2 linked regions of the Homo sapiens genome follow. The protein of the gene in region 1 interacts with the protein of each later gene in a pairwise test. Each region holds a gene or a part of one and is shown on either strand. Other genes may lie near its edges.

Region 1 (12,306 bases):
AGCGCAGTGTAAATTACGGCAAGAGTCAACCACTAAGTCCATTTTCATTCCTGTCAGGTCATACAGAATCTCTGAAATCTTGAGAACTCCTACATCATCTGATTAACTATATGAAATTAGGAGAGGGGAAAAGGCCTTCATATTAAATAAATGGTACGGGAGCAATCAGACATCCCTTCCACAAGCAAAAAAAAAAAAAAAAAGTCGACCTCCATCTAAACCCCCCACCATATACAAAAATAACTCAAAATAGGGTGTAAAATATAAAACTATAAAACTTTTAGGAAAACACAGAAGAAAATATTTGGGATCTATGATGGACAGAGTTCCTAAATACCAAAAGCATGATCCACAAAAAGAGAGGAAAGTCCAAAAGCATGATTTATAAATTGGACCGCATCAAAGTTCCAAATGTTTGCCCTGTGAAAGCCCATGTGAAGAGGATGAAAAGACAAGCTACAGACTGGAAGAAAATATCTGTAAACCACATATCCAACAAAGGACTAGAATTTTATTTTATTGTATTGAGATAGAGTCTCACTGTCGCCCAGGCTGGAGTGATCACAGCTCACTGCAGCCTCAACCTCCCTGGCCTCAGCTGATCCTCCCATCTCAGTCTCTCAGATAGCTGAAACTACAGGTGCACACCACCACATCCAGCTAATTTTTTTCTTTTTTGTAGAGATAGGGTTTCGCCATGTTGCCCAAGCTAGTCTCAAACAACTCACCCACCTAGGCCTCCCAAAGTGCTGGGATTACAGGTGTGAGCCACTGCACCTGGTCAAGACTAGAATTTTAAATGTACAAAGAATTCTCTAAACTCAACAGTTAAAAAACAATCCAATTAGAAAATTGGCAACCACATGAACAGACATTTTTCCAAAGATGGCAAATAAGCACATAAAAGGACTTTTCAACACCTTTGGCAATCAGGAAAATGCAAATTAAAAACCACAATGAGATTATCACTACACACTTATCAGAATGACTACAGTACAAAATAGTATGATAACATTATCAAATGCTGGTGAGGATGCAGAGAAAGTGCACTCATACACTGCTGAGGATGGGGGTGTAAAATGGTATAGCCATTCTGGAAACAGTCTGGCAGTTTCTTATAAAACGAAACATGCAATTACTATGTGACCCAACAATTGCAGTTTTGGGTGTTTATTCCAAAGAAACAAAAATTTATGATCACACAACCTGTACACAAAATATTCCTAGCAGCTTTATTCATATTAGCTAAAAACTAGAATCAGCCCAGATGTCGGTCAATGGGTAAAGATTAAACAAACTGGTACATACCATGAAGTATACTACTCAACAATTTAAAAAAAAAAAAAAAAAAACTAATGGGCCCGGCACGGTGGCTCACGCCTGTAATCCCAACACTTTGGGAGGCCAAGGCCGAGGCCGGCAGATCACCTGAGGTCAGGAGTTCAAGACCAGTCTGGTCAACATGGTGAAACCTCGTCTCCACTAAAAATACAAAAAAATTAGCTGGGTGTGGTGGTGCATGCCTGTAGTCCCAGCTACTTGGGAGGCTGTGGCAGGAGAATCGTTTGAACACAGGAGGCAGGGGTTGCAGTGAGCCAAGATTGTGCGACTGCACTCCAGCCTGGGCAACAAAGTGAGACTCTGTCTCAAAAAAAAAAAAAAAAAACAGGCCAGGCATGGTGGCTCACACCTGTAATCCCAACACTTTGGGAGGCCGAGGCAGGCAAGGCAGATCACCTGAGGTCAGGCGTTCAAGACCAGCCCGGCCAATGTAGTCAAACCCCATCTCTACTAAAAATACAAAAATTAGCTGGGCATGGTGGTGGGTGCCTGTAATCCCAGCTACTCAGGAGGCTGAGGCGAGGAGAATCACTTGAACCTGGGAGGCAGAGGTTGCAGTGAGCCGAGATTGTGCCACTGCACTCCAGCCTAGGCGACAGAACAAGACTCTGTCTCAATAAAAAAACAAACAAACAAACAAACAAAACAAATGATACACACAACTTGGATTAATCTCCAGGGAATTATGCTGAGTTGGGGGGTGGGGGGGAGCCAATCCCAAAAGGTTACATTCTATATGATTCCATTTATACAACATTTGTAAAATGACAAAATTTTAGAAATGGAGGACAGTTTCATAGTTACCAAGGTTTGGAGTGTAGAAATATCGGGAGGCTATAATTACAAAAGAACATGAAGGGTCCTTGTTCCTTGGAACTGTTGTATATTGACTATGGTGGTGGATACATGAACCTATGAATGACAAAATTGTACCAAATTTCATATACACACAAATGAATAAAAATAAAACTGGGGAATTTTAATAAGGCTGGTGTACTACACCAGATGTCAATATTCTGGTTGTGATGTTATAAAAATTTCCCAAAACTGCTACCATTGGAAGAAACTGGGCAAAGTATACAAGAGATCCCTTTGTATTACCTTTTACAACTGCATGAGAAATTACAATTATCTTAATAAAAATTTCAACTTAAAAAAAGTCTGTACAGAAGCATTGCTAATTATACGAAAGAAACAAATCAACACTGTCCTTTGTTCTAATTTTGATATGATGTACTTTTTGGGTCTCCAGAATAATGGTTTTTCCATTTTCTAATGTTTTAAACCTTGGAAGCTCTGTTTCTGGGTCGTATGTGAAACACAGCATTCTAGGCCAGGCGTGGTGGCTCCCACCTATAAATCCCAGCACTCTGGGAGGCTGAGGCAGGAGTACTGATTGAGCCTAGGAGTTCGAAACCAGCCTGGGTAACATGGCGAGACCCCATCTCTATTAATTTTTTTTAATCAACAGTAAATAATAAATAAAAAAAAGAAATGTAGCATTCCATTAATAGTTGCTGTTTTCCTCAAAAATATTATTTTTCAGCTCTGGAAAGAAGAATAAACATCAAGCAATCACTTATGCTTGCAACCCAAAATACACTGCACTGTCTTCAAATAAAAACGTTTTTCTCATTTCAGATTTCCCTTAAGACTGAGTTTTCTTCACTAAAATTTCATTTTAATCAACTTTTCAAATTCCTTTTCTTTTTTTTTTTTCTTTGAGACGGAGTTTCACTCTTGTTGCCTAGGCTGGAGTGCAATGACGTGATCTCGGCTCACCACAACCTCTGCCTCCTAGATTCAAGCAATTCTCCTGCCTCAGCCTCCCGAGTAGCTGGGACTACAGGCATGCGCCACCATGCCCAGCTAATTTTTGTATTTTTAGTAGAAACAGGGTTTCTCCATGTTGGTCAGGCTGGTCTCGAACTCCCGACCTCAGGTGATCCACCGGCCTTGGCCTCCCAAAGTGCTGGGATTACAGGCGTGAGCCACCGCACCGGGCCTCAAATTCCTTTTCTTACAGTCCAAATTTAATGAACTAATTTCATAAACCCTCAATTATTCATCTATTTGAAGGACCCACCTCTATGACCTTTACAAGACTTTTAGTCTTCTGGGTTCAGATGTCCTGTTAACCTCAACATCCTTTGTAATCCTTTAAACTCTTTTTTTATATATAAAATAAAGTTTTAAAAAGCTGGCCTTGGTGGCTTTAGAGGCTGAGGCAGGAAGACTGCTTGAGCCCAGGAATTTGATCCAGTCTGGGCAACACAGCAAGACCCTGTCTCTACAAAAATCAAATCAAATAAAAATGAAACTCCTCCTTTATGACTTAACCATCTCAATAAACAGTTTTCCCAGGCAAATCTCTTCAGCTAATCATACAATTTATATTTTGTGCTAAATAATGGTCTCTTACTTGTAAATCAACACTCAACAAGCTCCTACTCCTTCGTTCTTCACAACTGCTACCACAGCTCTGCCTGGGCAACCTTCTACTGTTAGACGGCCGGGCGCGGTGGCTCACGCCTGTAATCCCAGCACTTTGGGAGGCAGAGGCGGGCGGATCATGAGGTCAGGAGATCGAGACCATCCTGGCTAACACAGTGAAACCCCGCCTCTACTAAAAATACAAAAAATTAGCTGGGCGTGGTGGCGGGCGCCTGTAGTCCCAGCTACTCAGGAGGCTGAGGCAGGAGAATGGCGTGAACCCGGGAGGCGGAGCTTGCAGTGAGCCGAGATTGTGCCACTGCACTCCAGCCTGGGCGACAGAACGAGACTCTGTCTCAAAAAAAAAAAAAAAAAAAGTTGAAAGAGATTGCCAGTATTTCTCTTATTAGCCTCTCCCTTTTGCAAACAAAACGAGAATACCAGTATTTCCTTTGCCATGCTTGTGCGTCATTATACACCACAATTCTTGAAAAGAAACATCATCGGCTCTTCTCTATTATGCGCTAAGATGGCAAAGGACAAGTAACCCGAACAAAATCCTTGATATTTTATTCTAAGACTTGTTACTTACCTATTCGTGCCCCTCCAAAAAAAAAAAACAAAAACAAAACCACAGCAACTCTACTTTTCAAATTGAAATTGATGAGCAGGAAAACTATCACTGATTTTTTTTAACATAACAATGAAATTCTCAGAATGAGCAATGTGGTTATGAATAAGATTGGCTGTGGATTCTAATAAAAACTCCTGGCGGGGCGCAATGGCTTACACCTGTAATCCCAGCACTTTGGGAGGCCGAGGCAGGTGGATCACCTGAGGTCAGGAGTTTGAGACCAGCCTGGTCAACAGGGCGAAACCCTGTCTCTGCTAAAAATACAAAAATTAGCCAGCAGTGGTGGCTCATGCCTGTAATCCCAGCTACTCGGGAGGTTGAGGCAGGAGAATCATCTGAACCCGGGAGGTGGAGGTTGCAGTGTGCCAAGATGACGCAACTGCACTCCAGCCTCGGGAACAAAAGTGAAACTCTATCTCAAAAAAAAAAAAAAACTAATTAGCCATGTGGCCTTTTGGCCTTCTGGAAGTTACTTCACCTCACCAGTCTCAGTTTTCCCACTTTGAAAATTCATTTAAGGGTTCATTCCTGCACTAACATTCTGTGATTCTAACATTCCAAGAAGGTCTATGCAAATACAGACAACAAAAAGACAAATCTGCCTTCAACAACTGAAAGTACAGACCAGTGATATTAAAGCATGGGAAAGTACCATAAAGGATCCTCTTGATTCACAACCACTGGTTAACAGTAGCTAACACCTGGAACAGGAGGGGCCGTCTGTGATCAAATGCTCTTTTAGAGAACTGGGTCGAGTGTTAGTTTTTTGGGTTTTGTTGAGCGGTGGGGAAAATATATCTAAAACATTTACCATTTAAACCATTTTCTAAAACATAACATTAAATTTGCCATCTTAACCATTTTTAATGTGTACAGTTCAGTAGGTGTTAAGTGTATCACACCATTGTGCAACAGATCTCCAGAGCCTTTTCATTCTGCAAAACTGTAATGCGTTGTTTTATACTCATTAAACACCTTCCTATTTCCCTCTTCCCCAGCCCCTGGTAATCACCATTATTTCTGTTTCTATGAATTTGACTTTAGATAGCCTCATATTCATATAAATGAAATCACATAGTATTTGTCTTTTCATGCATTTCAAACATTTTTAAGTGTACAATTCATTGGCATTAAATTAATTCACACTGTTATACAACCATCAACACTATTCCTCTCTGGAACTTTTTCATCCTTCCAAACTAAAACTCTGTGATCATTAAGCAATAACTCCCCATTACTCTGTCCCCCAGGCCCCAGTAACCACTATTCCACTAATTTTGTCTACTATAGGTACCTCACACATTATTTGTCCTTTTGTGTCCAACTCATTTTACTTAGTAAACTATTTTCAAGGCGTATCCATGTGGTAGCATGTTAGAATTTCCCTCCCTTTTAAGGCTGAATAATATTCCATTCTATGTGTATACCACATTTTGTTTATCCATTTATCCACTGATGAACATGTGAGTTGTTTCCACCTTTCAGCTATCGTGCATAATGCTACTATGAATGCTGGTGTACAAATAGCTGTTTGAGTCTTTTTTGTTGTTGTTTGTTTTGAGACAGGGTCTTGCTCTGTCATCCAGGCTGGAGTACAGTGGCATGATCATCAGCTCACTGCAACCTCCGCTTCCCGGGTTCAAGTGATCCTCTCACCTCAGCCTCCCAAGCAGCTGGTACTACAGGCATGCGCCAACATGTACAGCTAATTTTGGGGGGTTTCTTGGTAGAGACAGGATCTCACCATGTTGCCCAGGCTGGTCTTGAACTCCTGAGCCCAAGTAATCTGGCCTCCTAAAGTGCTGGGATTTACGGGCATAAGCCACCTTGCCTGGCCCTGTTTGAATCTTTGATTTAAATTATCCTGGATATAACTCGAAGTGAGATCACTAGATCATATGGTAATTTCATTTTTAATTTTTTGAGAAACCACCCTATTGTTTCTCACTGTGGCTGCACCATTTCACATTCCCACCAGCAATGCACCAAGGTTCCAATTTCTCTACAACCTCATCACTTGCTTTTGTCGTTTGTTGTTGTTGTTATAACTATCCTAAATGGTCGCAAAGTAACATCTCACTGTGGTTTTGATTTGCATTTCCCTAATTATTAGTGATGCTGAACATCTTTCCATATGTTTATTGGGCATCTGCTTAGCTTCTTTGGAGAAATACCTACAGAGGTTTTTTTTTTTTAAATAGTAATTATGAAACAATTCACAAATTTGCGTGTCATCCTTGCGCAGGGACCATACTAATCTTCTCCATATCCTTCCAATTTTAGTATATATGCTACCGAGACAAGCACTCTGGATGGTCTTTTGGGGTTTTTTGTTTAAGACAGAATCTCACTCTGTCATCCAGGCTGGAGTGAGATGGTACAATCATAGCTCACTGCAGCTTCAAACTCCTGGGCTCAAGTGATCCTCCCATCTCAGCCTCCTGAGTAGCTGGGACTACAGGTGTACACCACCGCACCCAGCTAATTTTTTATTTAAAAGCTTTTTTTTGTAGAGATGGGGTCTCGCTAAGTTGCCCAGGCTGGTCTCGAACTCCTGAGCTCAAGCTATCCTCCTGCCTCAGCCTCCCAAAGTGTTGGAAATACAGGTGTGAGCCACAGCACCCAGCCTAATCAATCATTTCTTAAATGCAGGTTAGTGGAACCAACCTACTCTTCCAAAACTTAGCAAAATCATCCTGACAACAAAATGTATGTATTATACCTCTCTTAGGGACAAGAGCCTTTACCAACTTGATTTCTTACATGGAGCCGAGAGACTCCAATTCCCAGTGAAAAATATTCCCTGTTAAAAAATGAGTAAGCCTGTGGTGGAGAAAGGATTAATGACACCAAAAGGTAGCACATCCAGTATAGAAGCAGCCCACTAAAAGCTTGTGCTTTGGGGACAAATCCATGTAATTCCCACATCACTAATAAGTAACGCATTCCTGAGCTCATACTACCAAGATGGTTATGGTCAAATCAACCACTGAAATCTTCTCATCCAAAAGCAGTAACTCTCTTAAGCCTATTTTTCAAACAACCTTTCAATTTCTCTTTTTCTTTTCTTTTTTTTTGAGACAGAGTTTTGCTCCTGTTGCCCAGGTTGGATTACAATGGCACGATCTCGGCTCACCGCAACCTCCGCCTCCCTGGTTCAAGCGGTTCTCCTGCCTCAGCCTCTAGAGTAGCTGAGATTACAGGCATGCGCCACCACGCCCAGCTAATTTTGTATTTTTGGTAGAGACAGGGTTTCACCATGTTGGCCAGGCTGGTCTCGAACTCTGACCTTAGGTGATCTGCCCGCCTCGGTCTCCCAAAGTGCTGGGATTACAGGCGTGAGCCACCAAACCCAGCCCCAACCTTTCAATTTCTAAGAGCAGTCTTGCCCTATTAAGCCAAACAGCTAACATTCTTTTTTTTTTTTTTTTTTTTTTTGAGTCAGCGTCTCACTCTTGTCACCCAGGCTTGAGTGCAGTGGCACGAGCTCAACTCACTGCAACCTCCGCCTCCCGGGTTTAAGCAATTCTCCTGCCTCAGAGCCTCCCAAGCAGCTGGGGCAACAGGCACACACCACCATGCCTAGCTAATTTTTGTATTTTTAGTAGAGACGGGGTTTCACCATGTTGGCCAGGCTGGTCTCAAACTCCTGACCTCTGGTGATCCACCTGCATTGGCCTCCCAAAGTGCTGGGATTACAGGCATGAGCCACTGCGCCCGGCCACAGCTAATATTGGTAAGTCTGATCCCAATCTACTTCATATAATGATCAGAAAGTAGGTAAAAAGGAAAAATTTTACATAAACTACCCCCAATTCATATTAAGGGGATCCTGATTGTACCACCTGTCTGCCTACCTGCCTGCCTTCATTCATTATTTATGGTGCACCCATTAAATGCAGGTACCCTTCCAGGTGTTTAGCACACATGAGAAAAAAAAAAAAGACAAAGATTTCTGCCTTTGTGCAACTTATATTCTGGTGCCCTTGGATTCGTTTTGAGATTGGTTGAGTGTACCATACCAGTAATTTGTTTTTTGCAGCAGTCTCCAATAAATCTGACCATAAATACAATACATAATTTCTAATACGGATGTATGAGAATTGAAAATATATAGAAAAATTCAAATACAGTAGTCTTTGTGAACACCATCCTATAAATCTATAAAAATTATTTCTTCAAAAAACCATAGCCAATAAGAAACTTAAATGACTGCACCTGAAATAATGAGGGCCTGCCTTATTTTGGCAGTCAGGTCCTTCTGAACACCTGCAAGATAACTACTTCTATACAAACCTCTGGATGTTTTCTGTTTTTGTTTTATCATACACGGTCTCGCTCTGTCACCCAGGCTGGAGTGCAGTGGTGTGATCCGAGCTCACTGCACCTTTGAACTCCTGGACTCAAGTGATCCTCCCACCTCAGCCTCCCCTGTAGCTAGAACTACAGGAACATGCCACCATGTCCTGCTAATTTTTTGTTTTTGCAGAGATGGGGTCTATGTTGCCCAGACTGGTCTCAAACTCCTGACTTCAAGTGAACTTCCCAACTCAGCCTCCCAAAGTGCTGGGATTACAGGTTTGAGCCACCACGCCCAGTCCTCAGGATGTTATAGATTCTCTATAAATCATTTATAGAGAATGCTCTAGATTTTAAAAACAACACAGCCAGACGCGATGGTGCTCGCCTGTAGTCCCAGCTACGTGAGAGGCCGAGGAAGGAGGATTGCTTAAGCCCAGGAGTTCGAGGCTACAGTGAGCTATGATTGCACCACTGCACTCCAAGTTGGGTGACAGAGTGAGATTTAATCTTTTAAACAACAACAAGAAACCCTCATCACTTAATAACATTTAACACATTCCTGAAAGTAGTCTACATTCAAAGTATTTCTAGTCATCTGCACGTTGACCAACTGGCTACTTTACATTGTTTAGACACATACCATCCAGTATGGTAGCTACAAGCCACATGTAGCTATTAATCACTTGAAATATGCCTCTTTAAAATTTATTTTTTCATTACATAATATACATCCATGTAGAAATACGCCTAATCTGAGATGAGTTGTAAGCATAGCTTACAAACCAGAGAAAAAGAATGTGAAATATCTCAACAATTTTAATTTTTTTTTCATACAGACAGGGTCTCACTATGTTGCCCAGGCTGGTCTTGAACTCTTGGGCCCAAGCAATCCTCCCACCTAGGCCTGCCAAAGTGCTGGGATTACAGGTGTGAGCCACTGAGCCTGCCCTCAACAATTTTTAAATCTTGATCACACAATAAAGTAACATTCTAGATATGAGTTAAAATATATTATTAAAATTTACTTTTTAGGCCAAGTGTGGTGGCTCACGTCTGTAATCCCAGAACTTTGGGAGGCCGAGGTGGGTGGATCACCTGAGGTCAGGAGTTCTTGACCAGCCTGGCCAACATGGCAAAACCGCATCTCTACTAAAAATACAAAAAAATTAGCTGGGCGTGGTAGTGGGTACCTGTAATCCCAGCTACTAGGGAGGCTGAGGCAGGGAGAATTGCTTGAATCTGGGAAGTGGAGGTTGCAGTGAGCCCAGATCGCGCCACTACACTCCAGCCTGGGCAACACAGTGATACTCCATCTCAAAAAGAAAAAAAATTTTTTTACTTTTTAAAATGTGACTATTTGGCCAGGTACAGTGGCTCATGCCTGTAATCCCAGGATTTTGGGAGGCCAAGGTGGGCGGATCACCTGACGTCAGGAGTTCAAGACCAGCCTGGCCAACATGGTAAAACCCTGTCTCTACTAAAAAATTCAAAAATTAGTTGGGCATGGTGGCACACGCCTATAATCCCAGGTACCTGGGAGGCTGAGGCAGTAGAATTGCTTGAACCTAGGAGGCGGAGGTTGCAGTGAGCCAAGACTGCACCACTGCACTCCAGTCTAGGCAACAGAACAAGACTCTATATCTTAAAAAAAAAAAAAAAAAAAAGTGGCTATTAAAAGTAATATATGTGGCTCACATTATTTCTTTTGAACGGCACTGGTTAAACGCAATGGTAGATTTTTTTTTTTTTTTTTTTGAGACAGAGTCTCGCTCTGTTGCCCAGGCTGAAGTGCAGTAGTGCGACCTCGGCTCACTGCAAGCTCCGCCACCTTCTGGGTTCATGCCATTCCCCTGCCTCAGCCTCCCGAGCAGCTGGGACTACAAGCGCCCACCACCACGGACAGCTAATTTTTTGTATTTTTAGTAGAGACGAAGTTTCACCATGTTTGGCAGGATGGTCTCGATCTCCTGACCTCGTGATCCACCCACCTCAGCCTCCCAAAGCGCTGGGATTATAGGCGTGAGCCATCGCGCCCCGCCCAATGGTATTTTAAACCTGTGCACAGAGCTAATACATGTATGTGTTCAAGCTGTACTCAGAATCATTTATTTTCTCAACTTACACTATTCAACATCTTATATGTGAAAACATTTTTACCTGAAAGTATGAAAATGTCAGAGTCTAGGCTGGGCGCAGTGGCTCATGCCTGTAATCCCAGCAGTTTGGGAGGCTGAGGCAGGTGGATCACCTGAGGTCAGGAGTTCAAGAGCAGCCTGACCAACATGATGAAACACCACCTCTACTAAAAATACTAAATTGGCCAGGCGTGGTGGTGCGCACCTGTAATCCCAGCTACTCAGGAGGCTGAGGCAGGAGAATCGCTTGAACCTGGGAGGCAGAGGTTGCAGTGAACAGAGATTGTGCCACTACACTCCAGCCTGAGCAACAAAAGCGAAAATCCATCTCAAAAAAAAAAAAAACAAACAAACAAAGGAGGGCAGTGTGGTGGCTTCCGCCTGTAATCCCAGCACTTTGAGACGCTGAGGCGGGCAGATCACCTGAGGTCAGAAGTTCGAGACCAGCCTGGCCAACATGGTGAAACCCCGTCTCTATTAAAAATACAAAATTAGCCAGGTGTGGTGGCATATGCCTGTAATCCCAGCTACTTGGGAGGCTGAGGCAGAAGAATCACCTAAGCCTGGGAGGCGGAGGTTGCAGTGAGCCGAGATCACACCATTGCACTCCAGCCTGGGCAAAAAGAACGAAACTCCGTCTCAAAAAAAAAAAGAAATTGTTTAGTGGAGCACCAACAAATACTTGGGTACCACGGTGTGCAGGATGTTCAATCCATAAAATAACATGTTCTGCCACACCTCCACAGCAGAAGAGTCACATATTCTATATATAGCTAATATGCACTGTGCTCCTACAAAGTGCCTGGTCCTGGCACCATGTGAAGTGCTTTACTCTCACTAACCCCTAAAATCCTCACAACTACCCTATGTGGTAGATATTATGATTGACACTTTTTTTTTTTTTTGAGACAGAGTTTCACTCTTGTTGCCCAGGCTGGAGTGCAATGGCACGATCTCGGCTCACCACAACCTCTGTCTCCCGGGTTCAAGCGATTCTCCTGCCTCAGCCTCCTGAGTAACTGGGATTACAAGCATGCGCCACCACGCCCAGATAATTTTTGTATTTTTAGTAGAGACAGGGTTTCTCCATGTTGATCAGGCTGGTCTCGAACTTCCGACCTCAGGTGATCCGCCTGCCTCGGCCTCCCAAAGAGCTGGGATTACAGGAGTGAGCCACCGTGCCCAGCCTTAACACTCTTAAAGAGCCTGAAGCCGACAGAGGTTAAGTAATCTGCCAAAGTTGCACAGCTAGTAACCTGTGGAAACAAGATTCCAACCCAGCAGACTTGATCCAAAATCATCACACATCTTCCCAAGTAAAAGGGCTACAAAAAGATTATACCATTATCTTACAGGATTGAGTTTTAGTTGGGGGCATGCACCCTTTACAAAAAGATTGGAGTAGACAGAGTTAATGTTTTGCTTCCTACTCCACACTGTTCCTAAGGATAGGTTAAAGTT
Region 2 (12,306 bases), on another chromosome or scaffold:
TGCCTCAGTCTCCTCACCTGCAAAGTGGAGGTGACGATACCTACTCACAGGTTTGCTCTAGGATTAAATGAGAAGTCACCCATGAAACACGTGGTGCCTGGCCTGGTAGGCTCTGCCCCACCACACCCCCTCCCCAGGCCCGGGCCCCACCCCCGAGTTCCGACTGTCAGGAGAGCTCCAGGAAAGGCACTCACCCAGTGGGGACGCGCTGGGTGCGCGCGGGGCAGGGCGCTTCTTTGTCTTGGGGCTGCTGGTAGGGGTGATGCCGTACCAGGGGTGCAGGGACTTGGGTGTGGACTCCGGGTGGCCCAGGGCAGGGCTGGTGGCCAGGCTGGGTGCAGCTGGAGCCTCTTCCTCCTTGTCCTCCTCCTCCTCCTCAAAGGGGTTATAGGGTTTGGACTCCAGGCTGGCCGTTGGGCTCGGCTGGGCCACCTCCTCGGTGCCTCCATTCTCCACCTGCCTGCTGTCCTGGCTTGGTGGCCCCGGGCTGCTGCTTGGGGGAAGTGGGGCTGGCTTCTTCTTTGGTTCTGCCTGCACCAGCGTGATCCATGGGGGGTCCTTCCTGGGGGCTGGTGTCCTGGAGGAGGGGGGAAGCAGCAGAAACCATTAGCAGAGGCAAGGGTCAGCTTCCTTCTCTCTCTAGACAGTTTTGACTCTACTTCAAAGGGGGTGGATGAGAAACGGCTGTTTCCCTTCTCCCACCCCCATCCCCATGGGGACAGTCTGAAATGGAATGTTACAGTCACAGCCTTTGAGGCCCAGAGAATGTGAACCTTCAAGTCACAGAGCTGCTGTTAACCCAGCCCAGGAAAGGATCGACCAGGGGCTCTGCCACCTACAATCCATGTACCCTGGGAAAGTCACCTGCCCTCCCTCTGTATTAGTCTCCCTTTCCACTCAATGGGGACCTTAATAATCCTTGCCTCACAGGGTTGGTGTAAGGATGCAGTGAGCTATGGAGTGCAGCACTGGGCGGGGCACTGGGGCACCTGCTCAGTGCCAGGGACTCAGTAAACGTTAACAACTGGCACAGCCATGGCCCACCTGGCTCCCTACAGACCGACCACATGGGGGAAGCATGGCCCTCAAATAACAGCTGAAGTAGATGTCCTCCACGTGAAGCAGGGTCCCGTGCTGCAGGACCTGAGGGACTGGTACTACAGCTGAGCTTTTCCAGGTCTTTCTATACTCTGCTGCTAAGCCTCAAATCAACTCTATAATCAAGCCTCGGCCTCCCATGTTACAGGGCAAAGGAGCCTGGAGAGGCAACGGGTACCAGAGGTGGCTGCCTGCACCGGGCACTGCCCACAGGAGCAGGGACCTGGGGAGGGGGCCAGGCACTGGCCGCAGGAATCCCGGGGTGAGCCTCAGGAGAAGGGGTGTGGGCCCAGCTCTCCTTCCCCTCCTGAGCCCCGCCCTGCCCATCCACAGGAAGCCTCTCTCCCTACCCGGCCCCAGAGTACCCTGATTCCCACCACCAGGACCTCCAAAGCAGGAAAGCCCCTCAGGGATCGACATACCCCTCGGACGGCTTCGGTGTCCCCCTCGGCTTGGGGACAGGCAGTTCGTGCAGTCTCCCTAGATGGGAAAGGAGAGTGAGCCAGGCCTTCATGGGCAGCAGGAGGTGGGCACCCAGGGAGCCAGCCACAGCACCTGCCTCCCCAGGAGCGCCCCGCCTTCCTCCTGGCACCCTCGCACCTCCCCAGGCCAGCCCATGGAGATTAGATAAGCACCCAGGTGCCTGAGAACAGTCAGGGGTCAAGGCCAGGCCACCTGAGACCCCGTTTGCATTTCATTTGAGAAGAAACCCAAATCCCCTCAGACACCCCCCGCCAGTGTGGGCAGAAAACATCATCTCAAGTCAGCCTGGGAGCCACCTCCTCCTGGAAGTCCTGGACTCCCAAGTGTCCTCTGTGAATCCCACAGCAGCCCCTGCTCCCCTCCTTCCAACTTAGCAAGACTTCCACAATCCACTGAAACCCTTGCATCTGTGCCTGTCTCCACCTCAACACTGGGAGCACCCTGAAGGCACAGATAGGCCTGAACAGTAATCTGTGTCCCCAGCGGTCAGCTCAGATCCAGCCTCCACAAGAGCTGAACAAATAGAATGTTCTGGTGCAAGTCGCAGGGTGACCCTGGGAGTCTCTCTCCCCGTGGCCACCAATGCCTTCCCTAATGGAATGATAAGGGCTGCCCAGCAGCCTTATACAAGGAGTCTCAATCCTACAAGCTCACGGAAACCCAGGGAGGTCATCTGGGAGCATTCTACAATGTGGGGTTGGGGGAGAATGCACCCACAGAATGGGCCAGGGGTCTCCACTGCAGCTCACACTGGCTCCGGGGCCCACCTGACCCCTCTGCTCTCCCCCAAGCCCCTGAGCTCTCCCCTTCTAGACATAGACAAGCATAGAGGCTGGGCATGGAGGTCACCTGCAGTGTGCCTGTGGATGGGCCAGGACACACAGGAAGGACACCAATGTGCAGAGTCCCAGAGAGCTCGGGGACACACGGGCACATGCAGAGTGGCACTTACTACACACCCTGAAACTAAAGCCCACAAGAACAGATGCAAAAGAGCGCATGCAGAGGGAGGCAGTGTAAGGGCGGGGCCTGGGTCTGTATTGTTTGCACCGTCCCAGCATGGAGAACAGAGCACGGCAGAGGCTGCAGGAACTCGGCATTTGGGGCAGGAATTAATATCCTCAGAAACAGGCCAGGCATGGTGGCTCAGGCCTTAATCCCAGCACTTTGTGAGGCCAAGGCGGGCAGATCACCTGAAGTCAGGAGTTCGAGACCAGCCTGGCCAACATGGTGAAAACCCATCTCTACCCAAAAATACAAAAATTAGCCAGACATAGTGGTGTGCACCTGTAGTCCCAGCTACTTGGAAGGCTGAGGCAGGAGAATCGCTTGAACCTGGAAGGCAGAGATTGCAGTGAGCCGAGATTGTGCCATTGCACTCCACCTGGATGACAGAGTGAGATTCCGTCTCAAAAAAAATAAAAAGAGCCCGGCACAGTGGCTCATGCCTGTACTCCCAGCACTTTGAGAGGCTGAGGTGGGCAGATCACCTGAGGTCGGGAGTTTGAGACCAGCCTGGCCAACATGGTGAAACCTCATCTTTACTAAAAATACAAAAATTAGCCAGGCTGTGGTAGCCTGTAATCCCAGCTACTCAAGAGGCTGAGGCAGGATAACTGATTGAAGCCGGGAGGCAAAGGTTGCAGTGAGCCGAGATCGCACCACTGCACTCCAACCTGGGTGACAGAGTGGGATTCCATCTCAAAAATAATAATAATAGGCTGGGCACAGTGGCTCACGCCTGTAATCCCAGCACTTTGGGAGGCCGAGGCAGGCAGATCACCTGAGGTAGGGAGTTCAACACCAGCTTGACCAACATGGAGAAACCCCGTCTCTACTAAAAAAAAAAAAAAAAAAAAACAAAAAAAAACAAAACAAAATTAGCTGGGCATGGTGGCGCATGCCTGTAATCCCAGCTACTCAGGAGGCTGAGGCAGGAGAATCGCTTGAACCCGGGAGGTGGAAGTTGCAGTGAGCCGAGGTCAAGCCACTGCACTCCAGCCTGGGGGACAAGAGCAAAACTCCATCTCAAAAAAAAAAAAAAAAAAAAAAAAATATATATATATATATATATATATAATAACCTCAAAAACACAGGCAGGCCCCAACACAGCACAGCACACAATGGCACAGATGGAGAGGGGCCCACCAACACTCCCAGACACACAGACTTTTCAATAGACAGTGCACTGCCACCCGGTGCCCCCTGCCCTGACTGCACCCTGCTCACCGTTCACCAGGCTGCTGCTGCCAGCCTGCTCCACCAGGTTCTCCTGCTGCAGACTGGAGCGGGGCCGGGGCGTGGGGGGTGCTGGGGTGGTGCTCTCAGAGGCCTTCCTGGGGGCAGGGGTGGGGCGGCCCGCAGGGGGGCTGGCCAGCTCCTGTAGTTTGCCAGGAACCCGGGGCTTGGTAGGGATCTGCGGCCGGGCCTCAGGGCTGGCCTTGGGTCCATCGGCCTCAGCCCCTGCAGGAGCACTGGAGCTGGGGCCGCCTCCTGGAACATCCTTGGCATCTTCTGCGAGTTGCTGCTGGTGCTGCTGCTTTGGCTGTGAGAAGGGCCCAGGCCTGGTCCCCGACCGTGTCCCCGGGCCCAGCCTGGCACAGTGTTCTGCACACACAAAGGTGCCCTCCTCAGGCCCATTCTCATAAGCCCCAGGGAGCAGGGTGCTGGAGCACCGCCGACACCTGGCAGGGGACAGGACAGGGGTTCACTTAGCCAGGCAGCTGGGCCCAGGCACTGGCTACCCCTCCAGCCGCACCCAGGGCTGTCTCCTCCCTTCCCTCCTCCCAACTGCCAGCCAAGCTCGACTCCATACCCTAGACTTCCCAGAGGATAAAGAAAACAGTAACTGTCAGAAGCATAGTGGAACAATAAAATCACCAAATCACACGAACTCAGCAACAGAAATTGTGAAAAATGCCTTCAGTTTATGCTGCAAGAGGAAGAAGCAAAGGTCCCCCTGAGAGGTGGCATCCAGTGAGTGGCTGCATCCAGTAGTGGCTCAGGAAAATAAAGCAGTGGTTTTTACCCAATCAGGTGTTGTTTTGTGTTTTGTTTTCATTTTGTTTTGTTTTGTTTTTTTGAGATGGAGTCTCACTCTTGTTGTCCAGGCTGGAGTGCAATGGTGCGACCTTGGCTCACTGCAACCTCCGCCTCTCGGGTTCAAGAGATTCTCCTGCCTCAGCCTTCCGAGTGGCTGGGATTACAGGCATCTGCCACCACACCTGGCTAATTTTTTTTTGGCATTTTTAGTAGAGACGGAGTTTCACCAAGTCGGCCAGGCTGGTCTCAAACTCCCAACCTCAAGTGATCCACCTGCATAGGCCTCCCAAAGTGCTGGGATTACAGGTGTGAGCCACTACTTCCGGCTGTGTTTTGTTAATGAAATAGAATAAGATACAATGTATAAGACAGTATCATACAAGAAAGGCCAAATAGTGCTTTGTGAAACTCTTACTCCAGCTGTGCCTCTACTTACACAGTTTTATTTCAGGTAAATATTTACATCTAGTCACAGTGTCAAGTGTATTTTTTACTAGGAGTTGCTATAAAAAGTTTCTTTTTATTTTTGAGGCAGGGTCTCACTGTCACCCAGGTTGGAGTGCAGTAGTGCAGTCATAACTCACTGCAGCCTCAAACTCCTGGGCTCAAGTGATCCTCCTGCCTCAGCCTCCCAAATGCCTAAGACTACAGGTGCGTGCCACTACACTAGGCTAATTTTTTTTTTTTTGAGACGGAGTCTCAGTCTGTCGCCCAGGCCGGAGTGCAGTGGCGTGATCTCGGCTCACTGCAAGCTCTGCCTCCCAGGTTCACACCATTCTCCTGCCTCAGCCTCCCGAGTAGCTGGGACTACAGGCGCCTGCCACCACCATGCCCGGCTAATTTTTTTTGTATTTTTAGTAGAGACGGGGTTTCACCGTGTTAGCCAGGATGGCTTCGATCTCCTGACCTCGTGATCCACCCGCCTCGGCCTCCCAAAGTGCTGGGATTACAGACATGAGCCATTGCGCCTGGCCTAATTTTTTTTTTTTTTAATTTTTTTGTAGAGATGAAGTCTCATTATGTTGCCCAGGCTAGTCTTAAACTCTGGGCCTCAAGCGATCCTCCAGCCTCAGCCTCCGAAAGTGCTGGGATTATAGGCATGAGCCACCACCACACCCAGCTCCGGCCTGTAAAAAGTTTCTAAAACACTGCCCTGGTAGCCAGATGTGACTGTGTTGGTAGAGTCTGTTTCCTCCTCGAGATTTTTCCCCATGACACCCCAATTCTGCGGTCAGGTTCCAGGGTTCCAGCACCAGCTGCCCCCCACTCAGGGGCACACTCAACCAGATCAAGTGCGTGCTGCCACTCCCGGCTTCCTTGACTGTTCAATTTCCTCTTTTGGTTTCATTTTTGAAACATATAAAATGTTTCCATGAATTTTCTAAGTTTTTTTACTTTCCTTGCTGCTTATACCACTCTCTTAAAATCTGGCTTCCCTTGGAAGCCACATACTTAAAGCAAGTTGTTACTGTAATTTTTTAAAACTTCAAGCAGAACATGGTAGCACATGCCTGTAGTCCCGATTACTTGGGAGGGTAAGACAGGAAGATCACTTGAGCCAAGGAGGTTGAGACCAGCCTGGGCAACATAGTAGACCCATCTTAAAAGAAAAAAAGATTTTTTTTTTGAGACAGAGTCTCGTTCTGTCGCCCAGGCTGGAGTGCAAAGGTGCGATCTCAGCTCACTGCAACCTCCACCTCCTGGCTTCAAGTGATTCCTGCCTCAGCTTCCCGAGTAGCCGGGATTACAGGTGCCCACGACCACACCCAGCTAATTTTTGTATTTTTAGTAGAGATGAGGTTTCACCACGTTGATCAGGCTGGTCTCAAACTCCTGACCTCAGGGTGATCCACCTGTCTCGGCCTCCCAAAGTGCTGGGATTACAGGCGTGAGCCACCATACCCGGCCAAAAAAAAATTTTTTAAGCTAAAATATTTCATTTTATTTTTTCAATGGCCTTTTTTTTTTTTTTTTTTTTGAGACAGAGTCTCGCTCTGTCACCCAGGCTGGAATGCAGTAGCACGATCTCGGCTTCCTGTAACCTCTGCCTCCCGGGTTTGAGCGATTCTCCTGCCTCAGCCTCTCGAGTAGCTGGGATTAGAGGTGTGCACCACCATGCCCGGCTAATTTTCAATGGCTTTTAAAGTACACGTGGCTTTTAAAGTGCTCCTTCATCCTCATCCAGTAGTTATCCTCAAAAAGCGTAGGCGCTGGAAGGAAAACCCCTGTGCTCTAACCCTGTTTCTGTCTCGAATCATGTGGCTGAGCAACTGCTTTTCCCCTCACTAAGCCTTGGTTTGCTCATCAGTAAAATGGGGATAAGCCAGGGGCTCTGGTGTGAAGGGCCTGGCAAGGTGCCTGGCGCACTGTGTGTGCTGAACCCACGGTAGCCCCCTCCCTGGTTTCGGGGGTAACACGCGGCCCTGGCCACTCACCGGAAGCAGTGGCGATGGTACAGCCTGCCGTCAGCCAGGTAGCGCTGCACCAAGTGCACATGCTGCTGGCAGGCTGCGCACGTGCTGCTGGGGGTCTGGCCGGTGCCCTGCTCTGACAGGCTGCCTGAGGAGAGCTCCTCGCCCTGCAGAGAACGAGGTGGGGGAGGTTGGGAGCAGGACATGGTCACCAGCCATCCTGTTCACATCACTGCCCTCTCCCTCCCTCCAACGGCCACCGTCACTCAAGTGTGCACCAGGCTTCGTGGTGGAAATGGACTTCATCAGGGCCCCAGGAGGGGCAGAGGGCAGGAGGCTGCCACTGTCTCCCAGGTGAGGAAGCCAAAGCCCAGAACGGAGGAAAGCCTTGTTCAAGGTCACTGAGCCAGTGCGGAAACACGAAAATCCTGACTTCCGGTTTCTGAGGCTTCCCTCCCCAAAGGAAGGCAGCTCCTGGCTGTGCAGCCCCTTCCCCTTGGCGGCTCCTGCCCCCTCCTCCTCCCCTTTGCGGGGGAGCCCCCCTGACAGGTTCCTGTCCTCCCAGGCCGACCTCAGCTGCCTTTTCTGTTCTCTCCTAGAACTGCCACGGATTTAAATCCCAGTTTCTCTACATCCAAGCACAGTGAACCTGAGCAAGCTGCTCAAGTGTGGGCTTGGGTCCCACCTGCAGAATGAAACTGTATAACCCCTGCCAGCCTCAGCCCCATGTACCCTCATGGAGCACCCACCCTGGGGCTAGCTCCCTCCAGCAAAGAGCAGATGGGAGCAGGAGGGGAAGGCCCTTTACACACTGTAAGGTGCCGTCCAGATGTGAAGGGCTGGTGTCACTTCCTCTAAGCCCTTCAAACAGGTGACTGGCAGTTGGCCCCCACTTCCTTACTAAGTAACCTTGGACAAATGACTAAACCTCACTGAGCCTCAGTTTCCTCATCTGTATACCAGGGCCCATAATGCTGACCTCCCTGGGTTGTTGAGAGGATTAAAGGAAATCAAGCCGGGAAGTTTACAGCTGTCTCCACAGGAATCAAGGGGAATCTTTGCTTTACTACGTGTGTAACTCCTGACAGTCCCATGATGGTGAAGTCAGCATTGTGGACTGCCCTCTCTCCCCTTGCCAGAGCTGGCATCTCCTGACCCCACCTGAGTCCTGGAGAAGGAGGTAGGGCTCCCTGCCCATAGAACGGGACTGGCCTCCTGACCCATGCCTCACTGCCCCAGTCAGGGACACCTGTTCCCAAAGCCAATAGGGCAGGGACAGAGAACAAGCACCCTCTGAACACTGTCAGGGCTAACTTCCTCACATGACCCAGTCACTGCAATGATAGTCGTCCACATAACTCGCCCCCTCCACCCCTGGCCCTCCCACCTCTCCAGGTATCTGCCTACCTGAGCCACATCTTCTGGTTCCACTGGAGTGGGTGCTACAGACGGCGGGGAACAGGGTGCAAGGCCCTTTCTGGGTGGCGAGACACCAGCTGCCAAGAGATGAGAAAGGGGTCCTGAAGCAGGTGGAGATCCTGGAGTCCCAGGAGGTCCCAACCTGGCTGAAGATTTGAGACCTGTAGCCATCACCTAAAGGCAGACCACCTAATGCAGTGGGACAGGAGCTGGCTCCCGCTTCACACGGGCCCGGGGACGCTTCCAGTTTTAAGCCAAGTGCTGAGGGCAAGCCATGAACCTCACTGAACCTCCATCAAATGGGGAGAGTGACTCCTACTGCACAGAGCCAATCCGAACAATGGCGCAACAGTACGATCACAGAACACAGCACCCGCGTGTGGCTACACCAGCAGCTTCCCTGCCACCAGGGTAGAGGAGGTGAAGGAAAGGAAAAGAAAGGAACCATATGGTGCTGCCCTGACAGCTCAGGAAAGGCGCTGCCTCCTTGGGGTTGACAAGGAGCTGTCCTGCCTATCCCCAAGTGGGTATTGGGGGCCAGAACCCGGCCTGCACACCCCCTCACCAGAACAAACCCACCCACCCTGGGTTCCTCTAAGACTCAGCTCCTCAGGCCGGGCACAGTGGCTCACGTCTATAATCCCAGCACTTTGGGAGGCTGAGGTGGGTGGATCATTTGAGGTCAGGAGTTCAAGACCAGCCTGGCCAACATAGTGAAACACCATCTCTACTAAAAATACAAAAATCAGCTGGACATGGTGGTGCGCGCCTATAATCACAGCCACTCAGCCACTCGGAAGGCTAAGGCAGGAGAATCGCTCGAACCTGGGAGGTGGAGGTTACAGTGAGTTGAGATCGCGCCACTGCACTCCAGCCTGGGCAACCGAGCAAGACTCTGTCTCAAAAAAAGAAATAAATTCAATAACACTATGGTTGGTGCCAGGAGTGGCTCCAGCTGACTGGGGAGAGGCCCTTAGAAGCCACATGAAGAAGCTGGACTTCATCCTGACATTACTCCCCAACCCCTTTCTGATTTCCCACAGCCACTCGGCTTCCTTCACTCCTGCCCTGGCTCCCTGAGCAGGCTGCAGCTCCTCCAGGGTGGGGGTCTGTCTGTTGTGCCCGGGGTCACTGGCACCCACTGAGCGTGGTGGCACAGCTGAACACTCAGCACAGCACCACGACATCTCAGCCAGGGGCAGGCTCCAAACTTACCCAGTCTGGTAAAAAGTCAAGGCTAGTCAAAGTCACTCTTGAAATGCCTCCACTCGCCCAGAAAGTACAGTACAGGACCATCTGGGGGAGTCGAACAGCCAGCTTTGCCTCCAGAGTTGGAACACATCACTGTTTCCTTTGCTTAAGCAGCAGATGGGATAAAAATGGTTTGCATTTAGGGGCCAAGTTGTATGAAAGGCACAAACTGTACCTTTTCTTTTTTATTACAAAAGGCAGATTTATTAGAGAAGGTATGAAAATACATTGCGAGGCTGAAAATACAGGCAGCATAACAAAGGACTGTCTGCCACAAACTGTACCTTTATCAATGAGAATCCCTGCAGGGCGAGGGAGTGCCCATGCCCACACTCAGCACGGTAAGCTGTGCCCACCAGGGCTGCCCCTGCCCACCAGGCTGCCCAGAGAGGGCCAACGAATGAGCTGCGTACCACCAACAGCTGCCCACACCCCACCCACCCCGCAGAGTCCCAGAGATGAGCTCAGTAGAGAGAGATTCAGGTTTGGCCACAAGGAAGGCCGCAGGCTAAGGCTGAATTGCGATTCTAAGGAATCCAGCTAAACGCTAATCAGTGAAATAAGAAGTAGTAAGAATACTAATCTTGGCTGGGCGCAGTGGCTCACACCTGTAATCCCAGCACTTTGGGAGGCCAAGGTGGGTGGATCACTTGAGGTCAGAAATCCCAGACCAGACCGGCCATCATAGTGAAACCCTATCTCTACTAAAAATACAAAAATTAAGCCAGGCGTGGTGGTGCGCACCTGTAATCCCAGCTACTTGGGAGACTGAGGCATGAGAATCGCTTGAACATGGGAGGCAGAGGCTGCAGTCTGCCAAGGTTGTGCCACTGAGCTCCAGCCTGGATGACACAGCGAGACTCTGTCTCAAAAAAAAAAAAAAAAAAGAATACTAATCTAAATAGGTGCCAAACACTGGTTTATACATTTCCTCATTTACTCCTCAAGTCAACCCTGTGAGATGGGTGTTATTCCTATCCTCACTGCAAAAGGGAAACTGAGGCAGAGTGGTTAAATAACTGACCCATGGTCACCCAAAGAGGAAATGGCAGAGTGAAAATTTTGAGTCCATGCTCTTAACCCCAACCTTAGACTGCCTCTCACCAGAGCCTCTGGGGTCTGGAAATACTTTCATTTTGTTTTCTATTAAAATATACATAATGTTATTTGTTCAATTATTTTAATCCCTAGTGTTACATCAGGGGGAAGGGGTATAAGACATTATTTTAATTTTTCTGCTTTTGCCATGTTCTAAATTTTCTTGTTTATTTTTTCTGTTTAGGGATGGGGTCTCGCTCTGTTGCCCAGGCTGCAGTGCACTGGCGTGATCATAGCTCACCGCAGCCTCAAACTCCTGGCCTCAAGCAAACCTCCCATCTCAACCTCCCATGTAGCTAGGACTACAGGTGTGCCACCACTATGCCTGGTTAATTTTTTTATTTTTATTTTGGTAGAGACAGGTTCTTGCTATGTTGCCCAGTCTGGTCTCAACAGCAATCCACCTGCCTCGGCCTCCCAAAGTGCTGGGATTACAGGCATGAGCCACTTCACCCGGCTATTTTTTCTTTTTTTCCTAAAGTTATTTATTTATGGCTGGGCATAGTGGCTCATGCCTGTAATCCCAGCACTTTGGGAGGCCGAGAAGGGTAGATCCCTTGAGCTTAGGAGTTCAAGACCAACCTGGGTAACATGGTGATACTCCACCTCTACAAAAAATATAAAAGTTAGCTGGGTGTGGTTGCATGCACCAGTAGTCCCAGCTTCTCAGTAGGCTGAGATAGGAGGATCACCGCAGCCCAGGAAGGTTGAGGACGCATTGAGCTGTGATCATGCCACTGCACTCCAGCCTAGGCAACACAACAGAGTAAAACCCTGTCTCAAAAAAAATACACATATATGTGCGTGTGTGTGTGTGTGCGCGCACGCATATATACACATAATATATGTACATATATATGTATATGCATGTATATATATACATATATATATATAATGAAAGAAAAGATGGCTGGGTGCAGTGGCTCATGCCTGTAATCCCAGCACTTTGGGAGGCTGAGGTGGGTGGATCACCTGAGGTCAGGAATTCGAGACCAGCCTGGCCAACATGGTGAAACCCCGTCTCTACTAAAACTACAAAAATTAGCCGGGTGTGGTGGCGGGTGCCTGTAATCCCAGCTACTTGGGAGGCTAAAACAGGAGAATCGCTTGAACCCGGGAGGTAGAGGTTGCAGTGAGCTGAGACCGCGCCATTGCACTCCAGCCTGGGCAAGAAGAGTGAAACTCCATTTCAAAAAAAAAAAAGAAAGAAAAGAAAAGAAACCTCTGACTTCATAAAACACTTTAAAGAGTTGGGCCAGGGCCGGGCGCAGTGGCTCATGCCTGTAATCCTACCACTTTGGGAGGCCGAGGCAGGTGGATCGCCTGAGGTCAGGAGTTTGAGACCAGCCTGGCCAAAGTGGCGAAACCCCATCTCTACTAAAAATACAAAAATTAGCCGGACATGTTGGTGCATGCCTGTAATCCCAGCTACTCAGGAGGCTGAAGCAGGAGAATCACTTGAACCCCGAGGGCAGAGGTTGCAGTAAGCCGAGATCGCGCCAT

What was found.
Region 2: the proteins of RAB10 (region 1) and MICALL1 interact in a two-hybrid assay, tested with the Homo sapiens proteins (one study listed by IntAct).

Annotation. Positions count from the first base shown.
Region 1 is NC_000002.12:26,037,084-26,049,389, reverse strand, and holds part of RAB10 (ras-related protein Rab-10), read right to left. Parts: intron 1-12,306. UniProt on the Homo sapiens protein: The small GTPases Rab are key regulators of intracellular membrane trafficking, from the formation of transport vesicles to their fusion with membranes.
Region 2 is NC_000022.11:37,913,932-37,926,237, reverse strand, and holds part of MICALL1 (MICAL-like protein 1), read right to left. Parts: intron 8,532-12,306; coding exon 8,443-8,531; intron 7,203-8,442; coding exon 7,060-7,202; intron 4,267-7,059; coding exon 3,812-4,266; intron 1,579-3,811; coding exon 1,521-1,578; intron 578-1,520; coding exon 195-577; intron 58-194; coding exon of another isoform or gene 41-57; exon of another isoform or gene 1-40. UniProt on the Homo sapiens protein: Lipid-binding protein with higher affinity for phosphatidic acid, a lipid enriched in recycling endosome membranes. On endosome membranes, acts as a downstream effector of Rab proteins recruiting cytosolic proteins to regulate membrane tubulation.